Homo sapiens: one gene and its partner. The protein of the gene in region 1 interacts with the protein of each later gene in a pairwise test. Each region holds a gene or a part of one and is shown on either strand. Other genes may lie near its edges.

Evidence for each region. Proteins that work in one complex are often made in the same cells at the same time.
Region 2: the proteins of NGDN (region 1) and AATF interact in binary tests that used the Homo sapiens proteins (3 or more experiments, as listed by UniProt).

What each region holds. Positions count from the first base shown.
Region 1 is NC_000014.9:23,464,718-23,472,720, forward strand, and holds the start of NGDN (neuroguidin), read left to right. Parts: upstream 1-4,985; 5' UTR 4,986-4,998; coding exon 4,999-5,010; intron 5,011-5,324; coding exon 5,325-5,384; intron 5,385-6,188; coding exon 6,189-6,260; intron 6,261-8,003. UniProt on the Homo sapiens protein: Part of the small subunit (SSU) processome, first precursor of the small eukaryotic ribosomal subunit.
Region 2 is NC_000017.11:36,944,972-36,951,961, forward strand, and holds the start of AATF (protein AATF), read left to right. Parts: upstream 1-3,982; 5' UTR 3,983-4,154; coding exon 4,155-4,245; intron 4,246-5,242; coding exon 5,243-5,434; intron 5,435-6,990. UniProt on the Homo sapiens protein: Part of the small subunit (SSU) processome, first precursor of the small eukaryotic ribosomal subunit.

The DNA of each region.
Region 1 (8,003 bases):
GAATAAAGTAGTGATATACACTACAATATGGATAAACCTTGACAACATTATGCTAAGTGAAAGCAGCCAGTCACAAAAGACTACACATTACATAATTCCACATTAAGGATATGTTCAGAATAGACAAAGCTACAGGGATACAAAGTTGATTAGTGGTTGTCTAGAGCTGAGGGTTAGAGGGTTGGGAAAAAAAGGGGAAGTGACTACTAATGGATACTGGGTTTTTTTTGGAACATTGTAAAAATGTTCTAAAATTGTTATGGTTATATTTGCACAACTCTGTGAATATACTAAAAGCCACTGAATTCTATGATTTTTTAAATCAAAACAATTTTTTTTTTTTTTTGTAGAGATGGGTTTCACTATGCTCCCCAGGCTGGTCTCAAACTCCAGGCCTCAAGTGATCCTCCTGCCTCAGCCTCCCAAAGTGCTGGGATTACAGGTGCAAGCCACCATGCCCAACCCCACTGAACTGTATCCTTTAAATAGTGAATTGTATGATATGTATATTAAATCTCAATATAGCTGTTAAAAACTTTTCTCAGTATATACTTGAAATATTATGGACGATTGCCAGTTTATGAAACTGTTGAAAGAAATAGAAGACAATAAATTTAATGATCTTGTATTCTTTGCCAATGCTTGTTGGTTGAGTGGTAGAAGAGCTTTACAAAGATTTATTGTACTGTTAGCTCCAAGATTCTCTTGTAACAAAAGGAATGATTGTGTCAGGGCTCAGAAAACGATACTCCAGAGTATGGCACTTTGGCATGCTAAGCACTTTGAACTAAAGGAGATTGGAAGGCCTTAGAAGCAGCCTCAGAAGCAAAGTCTTTCTCTGACCTTCTCCTGCCCTCTTGTCTGCTGCCCTTCCTTCTGCTGCAAGGCAAGCCATAGAAACTAGAATTCTGGCTGGGCGTGGTGGCTCACACCTGTAACCCCAGCACTTTGGAAGGCTGAGGTGGGCAGATCACTTGAGGCCAGGAGTTTGAGACCAGCCTGGCCAATGTGACGAAACCCCATCTCTACTAAAAATACAAGAATTAGCCGGGCATCGTGGCAGAGGCTGCAGTGGGCAGAGATCGTGCCATTGCACTCCAGTCACTCCAGCCTCAGCAACAGAGCGAGAATCTGTCTAAAAAACAAAAAACAAAGGCCGGGCGTGGTGGCTCATGCCTGTAATCCCAGTACTTTGGGAGGCCAAGGCCGGTGGATCACAAGGTCAAGAGTTCGAGACCAGCCTGGCCAATGTGGTGAAACCCCGACTCTACCAAAAATACAAAAAAAAATTAGCGAGGCGTGGTGGCGCATGCCTGTAATCCCAGCTACTCAGGAGGCCGAGGCAGAAGAATTGCTTGAACCCAGGAGGTGGAGGTTGCAGTGAGCTGAAATCGCGCCACTGACTCCAGCCTGGCAACAGAGCAAGACACCGTCTCAAAAAAAAAAAAAAAAAGAAAAAAAAAATTAGAATTCGTCTTCCCTAATGCAGGTTTTAAAAACTGGAACCCCAGGGCTGGGTGTGGTGGCTTATGCCTGTAATCCCAGCACTTTGGGAGGCCGAGGTGGGTGGATCACGAGGTCAGGAGTTCGAGACCAACCTGGCCAATACGGTGAAACCCTATCTCTACTAAAAATACAAAAATTAGCTGGGCGTGGTGGCATATGCCTGTAATCCCAGCTACTTGGGAGGCTGAGGCAGAAGAATCGCTTGAACCCAGGAGGCAGAGGTTACAGTGAGCTGAGATCGCGCCACTGCACTCCACCCTGGGTGACAGAGCGAGACTCCGTCTCAAAAAAAACAAAAACAAAAACAAAACAACAAAAAAACTGGAAGCTCTGTCCCCCAAACCAGCCATAAAACCTAAAAATTTTACTCTAAATTTCTCTCACCTTTCTGCTAGGAGCTAGCCGTAAAAAATATTCTCTGACTTCCTCATTTGATGGTCAGTCATAAATCCTCATTTTGGAGGGGTCCTCCCTGTAAACCAGAAAGTATCTGAAACAGGTCTCAATCAATTTAGCAGTTTATTTTGCCAAGATTAAGGACGTGTCTGGGAGTGAGGCTTGTGCCTTTCTCCAAAGATGACTTTCAGGGCTTCACTATTAAAAGGGGAAAAGTAGGCTGGAGGAGAAAGAGGGAGGGTACATTAATCCACATGTTGCAAGAGAAAAGGAGCAGGTAGGGGAATAGTCAATTGGTATTTGTCTCAGGCTCAGTAAATCGGCACACAAGATAAGGTGAACACACAGTAAATACTTGTAGAGATATTTAACATTTTATCTGTAGCTATCCGCTTAGGAACAATAGCAAAGGCAGTTGCTTGCATGACTCCGTTGAGCTTAATTTTTTTCTTTTGGCATAGTGAACTGGGGTCCCAAGTTATTTTCCTTTCGCATTCCCTATACCCCAAAGGATTGCTATCTAGAGAGGCTAAGAAAAATCTGAACAGACAGGCCTTGCTGGGATTCCCCCCTCAGTCTAGTTCTGTCAGATCATACTCTTTTTGTCCTATCACATTTCTACACGCTGTCCATTCTTCATCAAACCTAACCATAAAAATGGAATCTTCATTTCTGAAGGCTCCCGTGTCATGTAAAACTTTCAATAAATTCATCAAACTTTTTTCTTGTTAACTTCTTTTGTTATAGGAGTGTCTTCTATGACCCTTATGATGGGTGAGGAAAGGTATCACACTTTTCTGCCCCTATAGTTGACAAGTATTTTATTTTTTTAGAGATGGGGTCTCCCTCTTTCACCTTTTTTTTAGAGATAGGGTCTTGCTCCGTCACCCAGGCTGGAGTGCAGTGGCACGATCATGGCTCACTGCTGCCTTGACATGGGCTCAAGTGATTCTCCTGCCTCAGCCTCCAGAGTAGCTGGGACTACAGGTTCAAGTCACCGTTCCTGGTGGACAATTATTTTAATAATCAAGGCCGGGAGCAGTGGCTCATGCCTGTAATCCCAGCACTTTGGGAGGCCGAGGCAGGTGGATAGTGAGGTCAGGAGTTTGAGACCAGCCTGGCCAACCATGGTTTAGTAGAAACCCCGTCTCTACTAAAAATACAAAAAATGAGCTGGATATGGTGGCGGGTGCCTGTAATCCCAGCTACTCAGGAGGCTGAGGCAGGAGAATCGCTTGAACAGGGAGGCAGAGGTTGCAGTGAGCCAAGATCGCGGCACTGCACTCCAGCTTGGGCAACAGTATGAGACTCCGCTCAAAAAAAAAAAAAAAAAAAAAGGCCGGGCGCGGTGGCTTACGCCTGTAATCCCAGCACTTTGGGAGGCTGAGGCGGGTGGATCATGAGGTCAGGAGATCGAGACCATCCTAGCTAACATGGTGAAACCCTGTCTCTACTAAAAAAAAAAAAAAAAAAAAAAAAATCAGCCGGGCGTGGTGGCAAGTGCCTGTAGTCCCAGCTACTCGGGAGGGCGAGACAGGAGAATCGCTTGAACCCGGGAGGCGGAGGTTGCAGTGAGCCGAGATCGCGCCACTGCACTCCAGCTTGGGCAACAGAGCGAGACTCGGTCTCAAAAAAACCCAAAATATGGCAGTGCAATTTGTTTTCTCATTGCTATCATAAAGCATATGAACAAACTAAATTTCAAATTCCCCGAAAAGGAAAAGTTTATTGCTGATCTAATTAGACAGGTCCGAAAATTTATGTAGAAATAGAAACTTTTCATAATACAAATCTTGATAAAACATTACAAAAGCTACTGGATAATTGACTAAGTATGCTGCAACAGCATCCTGAGCTTCCACAGTGGGCCTGAAGCAGCAAATTAAATGTTAGAGGAGTGGGGACTGAACACCCTCCTGCCTTCTTGAATCCAGCAAGATCTAGATACCAGGATTTCCTTACCTCACCTGCCCAGATACAGGTGTTATTCTTAATTCCAAAAGACAGCTTCAAGTCGGTAAGATCTGATTTCTAGACCCAGCTCTGTTGGACGAGTTGTGAACAAAAAATTATACACTATCATTCACCCTTTCGGTGCTTTATTTCCTAAGGCATGGGATGGGAACAATGAGTATCCGTCCAACCTACTTCACCAGCTTGTGAAAAACCAGAGTGAGAGAACACATCTGAAAGCACTGGGTAATGATGAGGCAGGTTATACTGAAACATGCACTGCCAGAGTTTGAACCAAGTTCTGCTGAAGACCTGTGTGACCGCGGTAAGTCATGTAAATATGAACCGTTCCCCAATTTGTAAAACGTATTCTTTTCATGTCCCCAAACTGGTAGGAGCGAAGAGTGTCGGGGCGTTATTGGAGCCGTTTCTCAGCGCTCCACAGTGCACACCAAGAGGGCAGGTGTCCTCGCACTCGGTTTCTAAACTCTGGCTCTGGGCTTCTCTAGCCTCGCTCTCTTATTTACAGATGAAGAAGGCTCAGAGACCGAGTGACTTGTCCACGGTCACACAAGGAGTAGTGTTACAGAATCGATTCCAGGGCCACCGGGTCTGTAAGGCATTTGGCGCGGTGGCCGTTGGATGAGCAGCCAGCAATGGCGGCTCTGCAATGTCGACACCGCAAAGCCAAGCCAAGGCCCATCACCTAGCGGCCGGTTCACGCACTACAAGAAAAGTGCCGTGAAAAAAGACTCTGGGTGCTGCGGCAGACGGGAGCCAATACGCGCTAAGTTCGCTCTGCTAATTCCTTTTTTCTATTGGTCCTTCCAACTGTCAATCAATTATTTGACTGTCTCTTATTGGCTTGCCGTCAATCATTTTACTCAGTCTACCAATCACACGCTCTTTGCCAAGTGCTTTTTTTCGTCCTGACGACTCTTTCTGAGTCTGACGAATTTAGCCAGTTCCTTTATTCCATTGGCCAGATCAGACTCCTCCTCTCGTTTATCCTGTTGGGGGCGGAAGTGAGAAAGCCCTTATTCGTATTGGCTTAGATTTGCAAGCGGCAGTTGTCTATCAAATCTATCAAGTCGCCCTTAGCGCTCAGGAAGTACGACACCGGAAGGGGTGGGCTTTGCGAAGATGGCGGCGCTGGTGAGTTTGGTGTGGTTTCTTCCTCGCGTAGCTATTGTGGAGTTGTCCTTTGCCTTCAGCGGCTGGAGGCAAACTGTTGGTACCAGGGAAGGGTGGTGATGAAAGTTGCTTCAGGGAGGCGGCCTCCCTAGAGTTACCGTTCCTGTCCGGTAACCCAAGGGGCTGGCTTTAAGGCGAGTCTGTGAACCCGAGTGTGAAGGCCCCGAGTCTGGGTGTCTGACGGAGAGAGGGCAGTTTCCCACCCTAGACGTTCCACTTTCCTATAATCCTGAGGAAAGAATGACTTTTCTTTACGCCTCCTCTCCCTTCTGTAGGGGGTGCTGGAGTCCGACCTGCCAAGTGCCGTGACACTTCTGAAAAATCTCCAGGAGCAAGTGAGTAGTGTCGCCTCTGGAATAAATTAGTCACGGATTGGCTTTGAGTTTGTGTACTTCACCTCAAAACTTTGGTGATTGAGATACGTGAATGCTTCCAAAAACCTTAGAGTAAAATGATGTAATCAAAACCTTTTCACGCCAGAATTCTAAGTAATTGATTCTGCACCCAAGGGAATACAAGAAACTCCAAAAAGAAATTATATGAATAGTTTTCCTTTATTCATATAGCTAAGGAAACCAGTGCTTGGAATGGTAACATGACTTGCCCTTTGGGTGCCCAGGTAATACACACTTATATACAGATGCTTCTCGACTTAACGATGGAGGTTATGGCCTGATAAACCCATTGTAATTCGAAAACCTCATAAGTCGAAATTTAGGCTTGATGCCGCTGCCCAGCATCACGAGAAAAGGACGGTTTCTACCGAATGCATATTTCTTTTACACCCTCGTAAAGTGGAAATTAAGTCATAAGTCGGGGAGTTATGTAGTTCTATGCATTGTAAGTTCAACTAGTACAAACAAAATTACAGTGCTTCAGTCACTACTCTCTCAGTCCTTTTCTCCTCCCTGTGGTTCAGTAAAAGATGGTCTCTTCTTTAAGAAGTGGAAAGTTTTTTTTTTTTTAAACTTTTTGAAGAACCATCTCTCCTATGCTTTCCGAGAAGTGAGAAGATAGTACTATACTTTAGACAGTGTTTCAGATAATTTTTAGGTGGCATTGTTTAGCTTTTGCTCTTCACAGTTTGCAGACATAATTTGATATAATCTAATCACTTGTTTTATTTGGGCTAATTTCAGGTGATGGCTGTAACTGCACAAGTGAAATCACTGACACAAAAAGTTCAAGCTGGTGCCTATCCTACAGAAAAGGTAAGATGTACTCAAACAGTAAGCATCCCCTGACTTAATGTTCTCAGTAGTTCTTTCATTGTATGTTTATTGTGTCTTATATATCCTAAGTGCTCGAGCTTCAAACATAAATATGATCCAGTTTCTGTGCTGAAGTCTAGAGGGAAGACAAAGCAAAGCAATAGATGTAAGTATTAATAGTAGCAGTCACATTACAGAGTTATGAGTCTCCAGCCAAAGAGAGGGATTAATTAACTGCCAGAAGAGCAGAGGGATTCAGGACAGGCTTCCCAGAGGAGGTGATAGGATTTTGAGGAATAAATGGGAGGGACAGAAAGAAGGAACATGTGCAAAGGCACAAAGGCCTGAAAGTATGGTGATAAGGGAAAGGAGTAAGTCATTTTTGTGATAGGATGTACTTTCTGTGTTATGTGTGTTGGGGGTAGGAAATAAGACTGGAAAAGTCACTCTGAAGATTACTGTAGGCCAACTGAGGAGTTACTTTCAGATTTCATCTAATCTAAGACACTTATTAATTGGGACATATCACTTATTGTATATATTAAGAAAAAATGTGACAGGCCGGGCATGGTGGCTCATGCCTGTAATTCCAGCACTTCAGGAGGCTGAGGCTGGAGGATCGCTTGAGCTCAGGAGTTCGGGACCAACCTGGGTAACATAGTGAGACCCTACAAAAGTTAAAAATTAGCCGGGCATGATGGCATGTGCCTGTAGTCCTAGCCACTCAGGAGGCTGAGGCCAGAGGATTGCTTAAGCCTGGGAGGTTGAGGCTGCAGTAAGCTGTGATTGTGCCACTGCATTCAGCCTGGGTGACAGAGCAAGACCCTGTCTCAAAAAAAAAAAAAAAATTGCTTATGACATAATACCAAGATGCCAGTGACTGAAACATGCATCCTGATTTCAGAGATGTTAAAATATGAAAACCATGTGCATCTTAAAATTGAAATATGCGCCTGTAATCCCAACACTTTGGGAGGCCAGAGTGGGAGGATTGCTTGAGCCCATGGGTTTGAGACCAGCCTGGGCAATGTGGTGAGACCTATCTCTATAAAAAAAAATTAGCTGGGCGCAGTGGTGTGTGCCTGTAGTCCCAGCTACTCAGGAGGCTGAGGTGAATGGATCGGTTGAGCCCAGGAGGTCGAGGCTGCCATGAGCCACGGTCGCACCATCGCACTGCAGCCTGGGCAACAGAGTGAGACTGTCTTAAAAAAAAAAAAAAAAAAAAAAGGCCAGGCTAAGAAGAAAAGGTGGCTCACACCTATAATTCCAGCACTTTGGGAGATTGTGGCGGATGGATCACCTGAGGTCAGGAGTTCGAGACCAGCCTGGTCAACATGGCAAAACCCCATCTTTACTAAAAATACAAAAATTAGCCGGGCATGGTGGCGTGTGCCTGTCTGTAATCCCGGTTACTCGGGAGGCTGAGGCAGGAGAATTGTTTGAACTCAGGAGGCAGAGGTTGCAGTGAGCCGTGATCATGCCACTGTGCTGCAGCCTGGGCAGCAGAGCAAGACTCCATCTGAAAAAAACAAAACAACAACAATTAAAATATTGTAGTTTTCAAATGAAGGTCTGGTAGAACCTTCTCAGGGATTACTGGTTGGGGGCAATGTGGAAGAACAACTCTGGATCTCTCATCCCTACTTAACTGGAAAACTCTGGTATTATCTGTTTTTATATATTGAGCTTTTGTCCTAAGATATTTAGGCCAAATATTCTATGGGTAAATACAAGTATGAAAAT
Region 2 (6,990 bases), on another chromosome or scaffold:
AACTGGGCTTGTATCAGATACTTGTAATACATAGTTAGAGGTGGTCCTTTTCAGTTTCATTTCATTTCCTATAGATAATCCGGCTTTCTAATTTGGTAGTTTGAAAGATAATGTAAAGGCTTTCTAATTTGGTGGTTTGAAAGATAATGTAAAATGAATGTATAGTACAGCTAGAAATGAAATACTTTAATCCCTTTCACAGAACTGATATGAAATTGTTGTTTTATAGTATTTGTTACCTTTGAAGTTCCCCAGAAGGAAAACTATTTTGCCTGGCACAAGATACATATTAAGTTTCTCTGAAAGATGAACAAAAATAACTAATATCAAAATCAAATTTCAACTCAAAAGGTTCTAAAAGTAGCTCGATTCTTTCCAGTCCTTCATTAGACTTGGAAGAAATTTGAATATTTTATCTACTATGAAATATTCTTGTGGATGTGTGTGTGTTTCAGTATCAGATGCTATTAGAGTTCCAGGATTTCTTTTCCATATCACCTAGATTTCACTCTGGATTATTTATTTCCTTATTTAAAAAGTCAAAGGTTTGACATTAAATGGTATATAATTTCCAGTGCTGTTTTCAAATTTTGTTAAGACACAGCCAAGTTTATCTTTCCTGCAGAGAAGGCTTTAAAATAAGCAATATTTCACTGCATCCATATGATGGCTTATCTAATGGGGGAGGAGGCTATCCGGGAGGAATCTGGCAGTGTTCTTTCAGAAATAAAAATGTATGAAATACAGAGGAGACTTTTGAAACTCCCAGCCTCTGCATGCAGCACATTTCTTTATTTGCTTTATATGCAATCACTGGATCGGCTTGTTTTTACCTTTTTAGCATTTATACACATTAAATCCTAGCTAACTTATTCATTATAGCCTCTACTCCCTAGCCCCCTTTAAAGACATTCATTTAAATGAACTGCGCTCACTGGGAAGCTGCATTTTCCTATCAAGGCTGCTGAATTATTTAGCAGCTTTATTGTGCAATCGGGGTATTTGATAAGAAGCGTTTTCGAGTTGGGCACACGATGTGGATTCGATTCTTCTAACAACGTGGTTGTGGCGCAGTCTCTCCCCTCGTCGCGGGATTCAGAATCCTGGCGAAAACCCGAACAGGTGGCAACGCTCAGCAGTCAAATTTGGAGCCGAAGGCCCCAAGGAGGAGGCCTGGAAATGTCAGGGCCTGTTCTCCTTCCCATCAGTGCTGTGCCGCCCACCTCTGGCCCCGAGGTGCGGGGACGTGCGGCACCATACCTAGGCGGAGCTCCCGCAGGAGGCGCAGCAGGAGGGAAGCGCCACTGCAGTCCCCTCTCGCCTGGGAGGGCAGCCTGGTTTCTCCCTGTGGCCATCTTAAAGCCACCACCTCTGTGCCTCTCGCCACCTGCCTTCAGGGTTCCAGCAGCAGGGAGCCACCATCTGCTCTGGCGAGGGAGCTGAAGCTCACCCACCCAACTTCTCCGGGCTGGCTGCCGCTGGTAAGCTGCTCTAGGTGAGGCACTTGGGGAAGTATTACCTGTGGAGAGCCAGGATAGGCATTGCCAGGGCTGGCACCTGAGGGTGGACAGCATCTGAAGAGAGGCAAGTGGGAACTTGGTTTTCCCAAACTCTTGAAACTCCTTGTCAAGTGAGCAGACAGTTGTTTGGGACAATTGGAAAGTGTCACCCCTTGCCCATCCTCTGCTGTGCCTAATCGCCTGCCACTTTGCAGCCCTTGGAGGGCAGGGAGAGGGATTGTGGACTGGGCGCCCCTCCGCCTTCTCTGGAGAAGGCCATTCTGTTAGGGAACTGCTCACCCTTATTCTCCTCTCCCTGTTCCTCTCATCTGCTCTCATCTCTACATCAGTCAGAGGTTGAAACTCCTCGCCACAGTCCACTCTCCATCTCCATCCCTACCCCATCAATAAGCCCTTCCCCCACCATCTCAAGACACTGGAATGCAGGTAGGGAGAGGCCCCCAGAGGGAGTATTTGAGAATTTGCTCCCCTGTCCCTTGCCTCAACTACTCTCAGTTGCATCTTAATTCCTAGAATTACTTCCTCTTCCCTCCACTCCTGGAGTCCTCTTTCTACCTTCAGTATAAGGTCAGGCAAACATTTTGGGGGGCCCTGGGATGTGTGTGACAGTAGAACGGTCTTGATTCCTTGCTAAAATGGCTTCCCAAGTCAGTAGGGACCAGGACAGAGAAGGGAGAGTAAGTAAACAGGTCTATGGCATTTTCTGCTGAGTGTTTGCCCAGCACAGCCCCCAAATTGACCAGCAGTGTCCTGTTTGCATGACAGCTTAGAGGTGGTCTCTGCAGTGACTCACCTCCCTTTCTCTTTTCTTCCTTCTCTTTACCTCAAAGGCCAGGTTTCTAAGCATTGTAAGTACCCAACATAGCAAGGGGATAGGATTGCAGGAGGTAGTTTCTTAAATGTGGGGTGGGAGAAACATTTTTGTCCTTTGAAGCCCCATGGCACCTTGTCAAGGAGCAAGGAACACACTTTTGCTTGGGAGGCCCGGACACAGGCACAAGACTGCAATTATAGAGGATAAACGAAAAACTGTTCTCTTAGGCTAAGCTCTCTTATGGATGGTAAAAAGCCGTTTTCTTCTCCTGAGTGCCCTGCCTAGCCTGGCATTCTTTTCCTTCCATGTCTGAGGGGGTTTACCCTCAGACAGGTTCTCCTTCCCCTCTGCAGCCCTGGTTGTCTTCATTCTTCAAGGGCCACTTTACAGGGACATGGAACAGGCTCCACTAAAGTGGTGTCCTCTTATTGCTCTTGGCCCTGAGGACATATGAAGATTGTGAAAGTCAGAGATCCTCTCTTCCCTTGGTTTTCATGGGAGACAGTAGAGAGCTGAGGGTTCCCCAGTTGTTCAGCTGTGGGATCCAACTGGCCCGGGCTGTACCCAAGGGGCACTGCCACAGTGCACCACTAACATCTCTTTTCTGGATCCTTTTGAGGCAGATTCTGTTTAGAGGGGTCTAGGTCTCTACAGGCAACCTCCAACAGATACCATAAGAATAGACCACTTTGTAGTCACACTTATCATCCCTTATTGCAGTTTCTGTTTACATGTTTGTCTACCCTCCTAGGCTGATTACCGTGGGGGGGAGAATCCAACTTACTTATCTTGTATCTTATCTAGCAGTGCCTGCCACATAGTGGGCAGTCAGGGAATGCTTGATGAAGGAAAGAGGATGTAAAGCGATTGTGTCTTTCCGTGTGCGGGGTGCAATTACATTTATACTATTAAGTCTTTATATTTTGAGTCTGTCCCTCTAACGGTAGACCTGTATTTTTCTGCATTTGTGCACCTGCTTAAGCTGCCTGAGCATGCCCTCATCTCTGAACAGCAAAGATAATCAATACCGAGGGGTATGCAGTGGAGTAATCCACACCCCACCCCCTTTCCCTTGCTCAGGCAAGGGTACTTAGAGACGCTACTGAAACTATCTTTAGCCACAGCGATTCCTAAGTATTCCCATTAAGAAAGACGCCAGCAGTCCGCCACACACTTACACGTGCATATCCCTGACATAGGATTCCCAAATCCTGGCCGCTGAAGGGCGGGAGGCGTGTGCCCGGCCTCAGACTACTATAAATTGCGAAATGACAAACCTGCTTTGGGTCCCAGTCTCTGCGTGCCCGAGTGCGCACCCGCGATTCGAGCAGCTTAAGCCCTACTCCCTCCTCCTTCCCAAATCAGCCACCGTGGGCCACGGCTACGCTATGCTTTATTCCTAAGCGAATCTCGCACAAATCTCGAGGCATATTTTGTACAAGGGGACACTGGCCGCGCGCATCGCAATCGCATCTCAGCGACAGAAGCGGTCACGTGCCTTGGCGCGCTTCCGCACCGCCCCTTCCCGCGCACTCGCACGCGCACGCGCACACGCGCCCATACGGCTCCAATCCCTTCAACCTTCTGCGCGCTTCCGCCTTCATGCTAGCAACGCCCGCAGTGACGCGCAGGCCCCGCCCCCTCCCGCGCGCCTCCCGGAAGTGGCCGGTCCAGAGCTGTGGGGTGGCCTCCGCGCGGTCTCTGGCGGAGTCGGGGAATCGGATCAAGGCGAGAGGATCCGGCAGGGAAGGAGCTTCGGGGCCGGGGGTTGGGCCGCACATTTACGTGCGCGAAGCGGAGTGGACCGGGAGCTGGTGACGATGGCGGGGCCGCAGCCCCTGGCGCTGCAACTGGAACAGTTGTTGAACCCGCGACCAAGCGAGGCGGACCCTGAAGCGGACCCCGAGGAAGGTGAGGCCGGACTGGGGCAGGCCACGTGCGGAGCGGTGGGCCAGGCCCTGTGGGGCAAGGGGGCGGCGTGGGAGGGGCGTGCGCGAGGCCGCCGGGCCTGCGCTCCTTCGCTTGGCGCAGAGGAACGTCGCCTCCCGCGAGGGTGGTCCCGGCCTCGGGAGGAGGGCTTCGGCTTCTTTTCACACGCACTCGAAACTTGGTGCTCGGCTGGATGGGCGGAACAGATCGAGGGCTCAGGCCGAGAGGAGCTGGTCTTCAGGTTTACTTGCTCCAGGCCTGTTGGAGGGAGCCAGAGAGTCTGCTAGCAAGTTGGAAGTTAGCTTTGAGGATGCCCTTTCTGGTATTGCGTTAGAAAGGAGGAGAAGAAAGTCGCATGTTTTTAATTCAGGTTGCCCTTCAAAACTAAGTTGGAGACTGATGGAAGGATTTTCTGGTGCTGTTTAAGTCTCTTGAAGTCTCAAGACACTTGTTCAGTGGCTGACGACTGAGACTCCTGTTCTGTAAGCTGATGTTCAGAGTCTAGCTGGGAGTAATCCCGCTTTAGACTTGAGTCGGAAGTGTGAGAAAGGGATAATAAGGAGGGATAAATGCGAGTGCTGAACCGTATCTTAGGAAGATCAGTTGAAGAAACTCGGGACTGTTTAGCCAGAATAAGCAAAGAAAACTCCCCAAAGAATGGGACAGAGTGAGGGGAGAACGTGATGACTGATTTAAGATATTGGAGCGACTGTCACACATTGAAGAGGAATTCAACTAGTTTGATAGGATCCAAGTCATAGAAATAGATCCCACTAGTAGATGCCAGGAGTCAACTTTCTGTTTAGAAACAGCAGTAAGACAGTGTTCTACTTTGGGAGAGAGTGAATTTCCTATTCCTGGAAGTTGGTGGGGATTTCGTAAAGGACGTTCAACTATGAGATAAATGGGTCGACCAGGGTTCCCGTTAAAGTTTCTGCTAACCTGGAGATTCTGTTTACTTTTCCCTCTCCCCCGACAGCCACTGCTGCCAGGGTGATTGACAGGTTTGATGAAGGGGAAGATGGGGAAGGTGATTTCCTAGTAGTGGGTAGCATTAGAAAACTGGCATCAGCCTCCCTCTTGGACACGGACAAAAGGTATTGCGGCAAAACCACCTCTAGAAAAGCATGGAATGAAGACCATTGGGAGCAGACTCTGCCAGGATCGTCTGGTGAGTAGACATTTTTGAATGGAACTCTTCTCTTCCCTAATTTTTTCAGGGTTAAAATCCTCCGGTCATCCCCCATGATCTTTGCAAGAGTAGTCTGCGGATCTTTTTTTTGAGACAGAGTTTGGCTCTTGTTGCCCAGGCTGGAGTGTGATGGCGCCATCTCGGCTCACCGCAACCTCCACCTCTGGAGTTCAAGCGAGGCTCCTGCCTCAGCCTCCCGAGTAGCTGGGATTACAGGCATGCACCACCACGCCCGGCTAATTTTGTATTTTTAGTAGAGACGGGGTTTGTCCATGTTGGTCAGGCACCCCTATCTGTTATCTTAGGAGAGACCATTGATTTGGTATTAGAAAGGGTCTTAGAGGTTACTTCATTTCACTTCATAAGGAATCTAAAGCCCAGAGTGATTAAGTTGCTATACTCCTTATGTTCGGACTAATGGCTCACCCTACAGTGGAGTGACAGAGAAGGCAGTGCATTTTGGCTACTGGAGAGGGTTATGAGCTGAAAAACCACTGTGTCTGATGAACATGTTATCCTTGAATTGTGACCCCTGACCTTTGGTTTTCCAGGACTTGCATTGAAGCACTGTGTGATATTAGTTATTTGTGAAACTCATTTTTTGCCATTCTAAAAAATCACATAATCCTTCTCTTCCCTGCAAAAGAGTTAGGAGTCTGTGCGCTTATAGTTTTAAAGAATTGTAAATTTCTCAGAGTGGAAGAAGGGGCTAGATATGGTGATTATTGGGAGAATGTCATTTGTTTTCCTTTAGAAAGGTCAGGGGTGTCATGTTGAGAATCCACAGATAATATAAAAGGAACTATCATTTAGGTTATGATATCTATGATTTAGTCCTTGATGTAGTTCTGGGAGCTCCTGATAAGCTCATTTCATATTCTTTGCCTAGAGACTGATAAAGGGACCAATCATGAGACAAATATGATAATATTTATTGAGTTCTTACCATGCGTCAGGCACTGAGTTTAGCTCTATAATTTAAGTTCTAAGAGCCTGGGACACAGTAAGTCCTCAAAAAAAAAATTATAAAATTACCTGGAATTAGACAGATTTTTATAAAAAATTATCACCATTATCACTACATGTGTCACCTAATTTAATCCTCCCAATTGCGCAGGAAGTTATTACTACTTAGCCCCATTTTACAGATAAGGAAATCGAGGGGCAAATTGGTTACATAAGTTTGCTCAAGGTCATATAGTTAGTAAGTGGAAGAAACATGATTCAAATGTAGGCTGTCTGACTCCAAGATGTACACTCTAGTAAACTCTGTATGAATGTTTCTTAATCTGAGAAATGGCGTACATTCAAAGAATTTAAATAATAATTTCTGTTTACTGTTTTGGCACTTAGTTTTTGTATTTATATTTTTGGCAGCTTTGTGTCTTAAGTTTATATATACCTTTTTAAAGAAGCGCTGAAGACCTGTCACGCTTTCCTAAAATCTTTATTTTATTGAAGAAAGTTTTTGGAAACTGGTCCCTCTATCTTAGAATCATACTTGAAACACATGGGGCTTTTATGTTCTACCATGG